3 separate regions of the Homo sapiens genome follow, and regions 2 and 3 are each linked to region 1. Evidence: fine-mapped expression QTL. A gene starts in region 1. Each other region holds a variant in brackets. All regions are shown on one strand. Distances are between the middles of the regions. Region 1 holds the start of IL16 (interleukin 16). Region 2 overlaps IL16 (interleukin 16). Region 3 overlaps IL16 (interleukin 16).

Region 1 (2,669 bases):
TATGGCTCAGCCTGAAGTGGGAGGATTTCACCTGATAAGGGCAGGAGGAGAAGATGCTTCCCTGTATTCCACAGGGAACCTCTATTCTTATGCTGTTACCTCATTCTCCAGCTACAGAAAGCAAACTTGCTATGGACCAAAAAAGAAAAAAACAAACAAACAAAAAACAAAAACAAAAAAACACCAATCCTGGGACCTACCAATGCAGGAATTAGTCACGGGACCCTTATCAAAAAGCAAGCAGAGTGAACACTTTTCCCATGGTCAATCTGCAGAGATGCCCACCCGCTGTGCCCACTTTGGAGAAAAGGAGTCTGGCCAGGCAGCAGAGAAGCCCCCATCAGGTGCCCCGTGGCCTTTCTCTCTCCTGCTGCCTTCCTTTCCTCCACCTCCTTCCACACCCCATTGCCAAGGATGAGACGAGGCTGAAAAGTCAGAAATCTCAGGACCAAATTCTCCCCGTGCTGCAGAGCCAGGTCAAGCGATATCCCTCTGCCCGCTCTGGCCTTCTGAAGCTGCTTCCTCCTGTACCTAACTGTGACATGGTGACACAGAGATTCCTACCAACACAATCCTGGCTTCTGCTCCTGCCCCTGACCCCAGCACCACTTCCAAATATGAAGTTACGTCCTAGCAACCAAGACCCTCCCCATTCAGGTCAGAGAGGCCAGCTTCCTCCCTCCGGTAACGGCCACCTGGACAGAGCAGCTGCCTGACAGACATTCACTCACCTGGTGCCCACCTACCTCCCTATGCACAGTCCCCCGGGGCTGCCATCTCCCTTGCTCCTCTCTCCATCTGCCCAGCAGGGATTGCAGCACCACTTATTCCCGGACAGCCTGTGGCCCAGGCCTGGGTCAGAGCCGGCAAGGATTGAGAAATGGACGCTCAGTTCTCAGACGGAGGCCGGCCTTTGAGTCAGATCCCAGGCTCCGATAGTTGAGATGCCGTGAGTAGGACACAATATTCACCACCTGCTCTGGACAGGTGACTCAGGACAAATGTGTCCCACCTGGCATGGATTTGCTCGAAGACTCCTGATCTGAGCCATCTGACTGCTCCACGTGAAAAGGCTTGATCCAAAAAGGGGGGCTGCCAGTGCTGAGAAGCTCAGCCTCAGAACAAGGTCCACCATCTGCTGGGCTGGCCGGCAACACCCAGGAGGCAAACCCAGTGCAGAGCCACAGAACCACAGTGAGGTTCCTTGGTCCAGCCCAGTTGCCCCTGCCTTCTTTGGACAACACAGAAATGACTAGGAGAGCCGAAAGGTAGCAGACATGACTCGGTGCCTGCAATGTGCCTGGCACGCTGCTAGGAGCTTTCTATAAACCTCATCACATGCTGGAAGCTGTGGCACGTGCCTATAATCCCAGCTACTCAGGAGGCTGAGGCAGAAGGATCACTTGAGCCGGGGGATTCAAGACAAGCCCGGGCAAACCATAGCAAGAACTCCTCTCAAATTATATAAAAATTTAATAAAAAGAGGAAAAAAGTCATCACATACAATCCTGCCATCAATCTGGTAAATATATCACCTGCTTTGCAGACAAAGAAAGCCACTGCACAAACGTTCATTAAACACCTACTACGTGCCGTGGAATTTCCCCAAGGTCACACAGTTAGCAAGTTAGCAAGTCAAAATCCACCTGTCTCCAAAGCCCAGGCTTTTTCCATAGCATTTCATTTCTTGTCTGTGCCACCCTTTCCCAAAAACAACAGACTGGCTCTCAGAAGCTTATGTAACTCAGTGGTCCTCAAGCCAGCTGCATCAGCAGCATCTGCTAGAAATGCAAGTTCTCAGGCCCTGGCCTAGACCTCCTGAAGCAGCACCTCTGGCACTCTGTTTTCACAAAGCCTCCAGGTGATTTTGGTGCGTGCTCAGGTGCGAGAGCCCATGACCTAACGTATACAGAGCATGTTGAAAACTGCAGCATAAAAGAATGGGGCACTTTTGTGTGTGTCCTGTTGGCATTAGTGTCATGAGACCAGAGTGCCTTTCCCCCACGTAGCCCCTTGGAGAATCTAATCATAAGGTGGCATTTAATCCATCTGCCCCGCAAAGAGCATCCCACACATCTCTCCTAAGCTCAGTCTCTGTGAGCCCTGTGTACATGCTAGGCTGAGGTTTTTGTATGGACCTCTCTTCTAAAGAATGGAATGTTTCCCAACGCTCAGCACCAAATGTTTCAGGGCTTCCTGGGGGCTTTAATGAGGGTGTAGGTGCAACCTGTAGGAAGCCCTTGAAATTCCATGCAAGGCTGCAAAGATCTAGCCGCTGCTGCTGGAGAACACAGGCCCACGGTCCCAAGGGAAGCACGGGAGGAGGGAGCACTCTGGGGATAAAGCTGCCTTTGTCAGCAGGCACAGGGGACATTGTAGGGCTGAGTCTGGAGTGAGTCTGGAGTGCAGTGAAGGAATTTCTAAATTGCAGAGAGTGAGCGCCTCTGTCAGTGTCGCCTGCTCAGCTCACACCCACAATCTCTCTCACAATGGCCTGGGTGCGGTGGGGCCAGGACAGACTCAGGCCCCACTTCCATCTTGCTCTGGCAGAGAGGCTGAGGAGCAATTCAGCACCCCAGGGCTATGGGGGCTGGCCTTGCCCTTCTTGGATCCTGAGGCCTGGGAGGGCCCCACAGCCCCCCTCCTCCACTAAGTCTAAGCTCTCTCTT
Region 2 (2,669 bases), 93 kb before region 1:
TCTCCTTTCCAAACTTGGTGTTTTCCACAGCCTGGGCCACAGCTTCTTTGAGTTGCTGTTCAGAGACCTAGAAAATATCAGTCATCTCCTCAAACAAACAGTAGAAGCTCCTGCATCAGGCTCCCAGCCCCGTACCAGCTCCAAAGCTGGGCCACTGGATTCTAAATTATTTTATTTCAACCCACTCTGCAAATAGCTGATGAATTCCATTTCCAGAAATACCCCGGGAATCAATGGTTCCTCAGTATCTTCTAGATAAAGTCCAAAGTCTATCAATGCAGGGGTTCCCAAGGAGGCCCCCTCAACTCTCCAACCTTCTCCCCACTACTTGCTGGAAAATTCTAGGCAAAGTTACCACTTCATAGGTTATCTCTATGAGCTAGTCCGTTCTTGGCAATGCTGTCATGACATCATCATTATCAACAATATCGTAATAATCACAATCACTATTATACTGTCTGAGCTGTGACTCACAGTTTATTATCACTTTGGAGTAATAGTTAAGAGTATGAGTCCTAGAGTCAAAAAGGCTTGTGTTCTAGTCCCGGTTCCTCTACTGTCTAGGTGTGAACACCTAGACAAGTTACTTAACCTCCTGAGCCTCCATTTCTTCCTTCTGTAAAATAATAACAATAATAAAACCCACTTCAAAATGAGGACAGGTTTTTTAAAAATAAATTATTTGACATCAAAAGTACAGGAAACAAAAAAATAGATAAATTGGACTATGTGAAAATCAAAAACTTCTGTGCATCAAAAGGACATCATCAACAGATTGAAAAGGCAACTCATAGAATTGGAGAAAATATTCGCAAATCATATTTCAGATAAATAGTTGAGTTGCAGATTATATAAAGAACTCCTACAACTCAGCAACAACAACAACAACAAAACAACCTGATTAAAAACTGGGCACAGAACCTGAATAGACATTTCTTCAAAGAAGATATACAAACAGCCAAAAAGCAAATGAAAAAATGCTCAACATCACTAATGATTAGGTAAATGCAAATCACAACCACACTGAGTTACCACCTCACACACATTAGGACATTAGGATGGCTACTATAAACAAAAAGAAAAGAGGCTGGGCATGGTAGCTCATGCTTCTAATCCCAGCACTCTGGGAGGCTGAGGCAGGCAGATCACTTGAGGTCAGGAGTTCGAGACCAGGCTGACCAACATGGTGAAAGCCCATCGCTACTAAAAATACAAAAATTAGCCTGTGCAGTGGTACACACCTATAATCCCTGCTACTAGGGAGGCTGAGGTGGGAGAATCACTTGAACCCAGTGCAGTGAGCCAAGATCGTGCCACTGCGCTCGAGCCTGGGTGACAGAGTGAGACTCAGTCTCAAAAAAAGAAAAGAAAATAACAAAGTATTGGCAAGGATATGGAGAAATCGGGACCCTTGGGCTCTGTTGATAAGAATGTAAAATGGTGTAGCCACTGTGGAAAATAGTTTGAAGGCTCCTCAAAAACTTAAAAATAGAATTACCATATGACCCAGCAATTCCACTTCTGGGTATATACCCTAAAAGAAGGGAAGTCAGTATCTCAGAGGAATCTGTACTCCACGTTCATTGTAGCATTATTCACAATAGTCAAAAGGTGGAAACAACCCAAGTACCCAAAAACAGATGATAAACAGCATGTGATACACACACACGCACACACACACACACACACA[T/CACACACAT]ACACATACTAGAAGATTATTCGACCTTAAAAAGGAAGGAAATTCTGGCCCGTGCTACAACATAAATGAACCTTGAGGACATTACGCGAAGTCAAATAAGGCAGACACAAAAGGACCCATTTTATATGATTCCACTTCGATGAACGTAGAGTAGTCAAAATCACAGAGACAGAAAGTAAAATGGTGGTTCCCAGGATTTGCTGGTAGGAGAACATAGGGACTTGTTTAACTGGTAGAGTTTAAATTCTGAAAGATGGAAAGAGTTCTGGAGACGGATGGTGGCAATGGTTGCACAACAATGAGAATGTCCTTAATGCCACTGAACTGTACACTTAAAAAATGGTTAAGATGGTAAATTTTATGTTATGTGTATTTTACCACAATAAACAACAATAAATAAATCATTTAAAGTCTGCGGCACAATGCCTGGCAGATGGTAAACTCTTACTAGAGGAGAGTTACCATCCACAACAGTCCTGTAAGGTAAAGACCACTCCCCTATGTCAGAGTTGAGGAACCAGAGGCTCTTGGAGGTTAGATGAGTTGCCCAAATTAACCATAAGCAAGCAGCAGACTGGACACATGCCAGGCATTCTGCTGCTGGGCCTGGCTCTCTTCTCTCTGCCCTATGCCTGTGCCCCTGGATCTCCACGGCCTAGGGTGTCTTCGTCTTTCTGCTGCTCTAAACCTTACCTGTCCTTTCTGGCCTGGCTCCCTTATCTGAGCAGCTGGAACTCCAGCTCCCTCACTCTCAAGGCCCTCACCTCTGTGGCCTCTCTGTGTGTGTCCCATGTCTCTGGGAGAATGCACATTCCTTAAGCCCAGGGCTACAGCATTTGCCCACAACCTGACGCCCTACTCCACTGATTTTCTGCCGTAGTCCTAAAAGCAGCAGGAGGAAATGACAAATTAATTGGGACCTCTTTCTTTTCTTGTATTGTCCAGAGATTTAGGCCAATTATTTGTTTGCCTTAATTAA
Region 3 (2,669 bases), 51 kb before region 1:
AAAGAGTTGATATTCAGGTAAATCTAAACAAAAAGTGACTGAAGTAATAATAATATGTTATGGTTTTACAAATAAAAATGGAGCAATTTACCTATTAACAAAAGGATATGAACCAGGAAAACATACTATTGGGGTGAAAATATTCAATGGTTTTTCTGTTATTCAGGAAGAGGGTAAAAGTAAAAATTAATAACTTTTGCACTTTGAAAACCTTCATATACATGCCAAATTTTCTGAGTTCACCATAAAATCACAGAAATAGGTCCAGGTGCGGTGGCTTATGTCTGTCTGTAATCCCAGCACTTTGGGATGCAGAAGCGGGCAGATCACTTGAGCTCAGGAGTTCAAGACCAGCCTGGGCAACATGGCAAAACCCCAACTCTACTAAAAATACAAAAATTAGCAAGGTGTGGTGGTGGGCGCCTGTAATCCCAGCCACTTGGGAGGCTGAGGCAGGAGAACGGCTTGAACCCAGGGGGTGGAGTTTGCCGTGAATGGAGACTGCACCACTGCGCTCCAGCCTGGGTGATAGAGTGAGACTCTGCCTCAAAAAAAAAAAAAAAAAAAGAAAGAAAGAAAAAAAATCACAGAAATAGAATTAGAAACAGAATCAATAGAGGAGGAGAAAGGGAATGAGAAAATATAATCAATAAAAAGATAAGAAAGCAGAGAATAAAACAGGGAAAATGGAATAAGTATTAAACATGAAATAATTTTACTTATAATTTAAGAGGTTAAATATAATTTTAAAGATAAATATAATTTTAAAGATAATTTTTAATAATTTTAAATATAATAATAAAAATAATTTTAAAGAGATTCATCTAAGAAGCAAAGATTGTCAAGACAGATTTACATTGTAAATCCAACCATAAACCATTTAAGAAATATACAGGTAAAATAAAAGAAGACAAACAGTTCAAAAAGAAAAAGTCATTCACATACACATTCACACATACATAAGTAGGTGTGTGTGTAGTTGAAAACAAAAGAATAAAAACTAGATAGAAGTAGATAGATACAGACATAGACAGATAGGTGGGTAGATAGCTCAGACAACTGCTAATAAAATTAAAGCTAGTACCACTTTATAGACAAGGTAGATTCAAACAAAAATAATAGAGATAAACTCAGGATATAAATTATAACTGCTTTCAATCATAAAGAATATATAACAATTCTAAATGTTCGCACCTTATAACATAGCCTCATAATGCTGAAATAACTAAAAGGAAAATCTAGCATGAGATTTTTAACCGACTCCTTAAGAAACTGATAGATCAAGCAGACAAAAAGCAGTAAGGTTAATAGCTATATACAATGTCTCTTTAAACATAAACAAAATATGAAAATAATCTTATACGGGGTCATCAAATAATTCTCAACAATTCTGAATAACTGGAATGACCCACTCCATGCTTTCTGACAACACCACAATTAATTATAAGGCACTTAAAAATGTTAACTGGGGAGAGAGAAAACAGATGAGTTGCTGCTAGAGGTTAAGGATGGTGGGAAGAGGGGTGGGGTGTGATTCTGAAGGGTGGCATTAGGGAGATCTTAGTGGCGAGGGAGCACTTTGGTATCTTCGCTGAAGTAGAGGTTACAAGTGATAA[A/T]ATAGCATAGAACTACACACACACCATAGCAATGTCAAATTTGTGGTTTTGATGTTTTACTATAGTTATGTAAGAGGGAACCAATGGGGAAAACTGGGTGAAGGGTACATGAGATTTCTCTGTACTATCTTTGCAACTTCTTGTGAATATGTAGTTACTCGAAAAGAAAAAGGTTTTGATTTTTGTCTTCGAGGTAACTGGAAAATAACTACATATTTGAAAATCAAGAAACATACCTCCAAATAACTCATGGGTCAAAGAAGAAATCATACTGGAAATTTAAAGGCATTTAGAACTGAATGATAATAAAATTTTACATATTAAATCTTGTGGAATGCAGCTAAAGATAAAACAGTGCTTACAGGAAAAGTTATCTCAAGTGCTTATATTAAAAAGGAAGAAAAGCTGAAAATAATGGGCTAATCATCAAAGAAAGTAGAGAAAACGATAAAGATATGGACAAAATTTATTAAATAAAAATACACGTATAATAGGGGAGTTGACAAAATTATAAGCTGGTTCTGTGAAAAGATTTTAAAATACTGATGACGCTCCAGCAAGGTCACTCAAGATCAAAAAAAAAAAAAAAAAAAAGGAAAAGAAAAGAAAGAAAACACAAATAAAATGAGGGTTGAAAGGGGACACAATTACAAATACAGTAAAGATTAAAAGATGACAAGAAGATATTACAAATAACTGTATAGCATAAATTTGAACAACTAGATTAAATGAGAAAGTTCTGAGGAAAATAAACTGTATCAAAATCAACTCAAGAAAGACAAGGAAACTTTTAGGGGCCTGTAAAAATTAAAGAAACAGAGTGGTTTTAACTCTTTCCACAAAGAAAACACTGGTACCAGATGGTTTTAAACAGTAAGTTCTATAAATCATTGAAGAAATAAATAATTCCAAACCTAGAATACGAATTCCAGAATGTAGATAATGAGAAACCACACCTCACATTTTAGAAGGGTGGCAAACTTAGTTACCTGGCAAGTAAAAAGAAAACATTGATATCAGTAAAAGAGATGAGCATGGTATCAGTGTGAGGTC

Evidence for each region. PIP is the estimated chance that this variant, and not a neighbour inherited with it, causes the effect.
Region 2: its variant is the best candidate, but not a certain one, in a credible set for the expression of IL16 in monocytes (Quach 2016, PIP 0.55).
Region 3: its variant is the best candidate, but not a certain one, in a credible set for the expression of IL16 in subcutaneous fat (GTEx, PIP 0.74).

What each region holds. Positions count from the first base shown.
Region 1 is chr15:81,195,215-81,197,883 of GRCh38, reverse strand. It overlaps IL16 (interleukin 16), which reads right to left and starts at 1,005. Exons shown (of 19, transcript NM_172217.5): 1 at 732-1,005.
Region 2 is chr15:81,287,851-81,290,519 of GRCh38, reverse strand. It overlaps IL16 (interleukin 16), which reads right to left. Exons shown (of 19, transcript NM_172217.5): 11 at 1-67. Among named protein-coding and RNA genes, the nearest start is that of STARD5, 35 kb to the left of the region's middle. The variant T/CACACACAT (reference allele first, on the strand shown) is at 1,691.
Region 3 is chr15:81,246,618-81,249,286 of GRCh38, reverse strand. The region is part of intron 2 of IL16 (interleukin 16); the gene reads right to left. Among named protein-coding and RNA genes, the nearest start is that of IL16, 51 kb to the right of the region's middle. The variant A/T (reference allele first, on the strand shown) is at 1,617.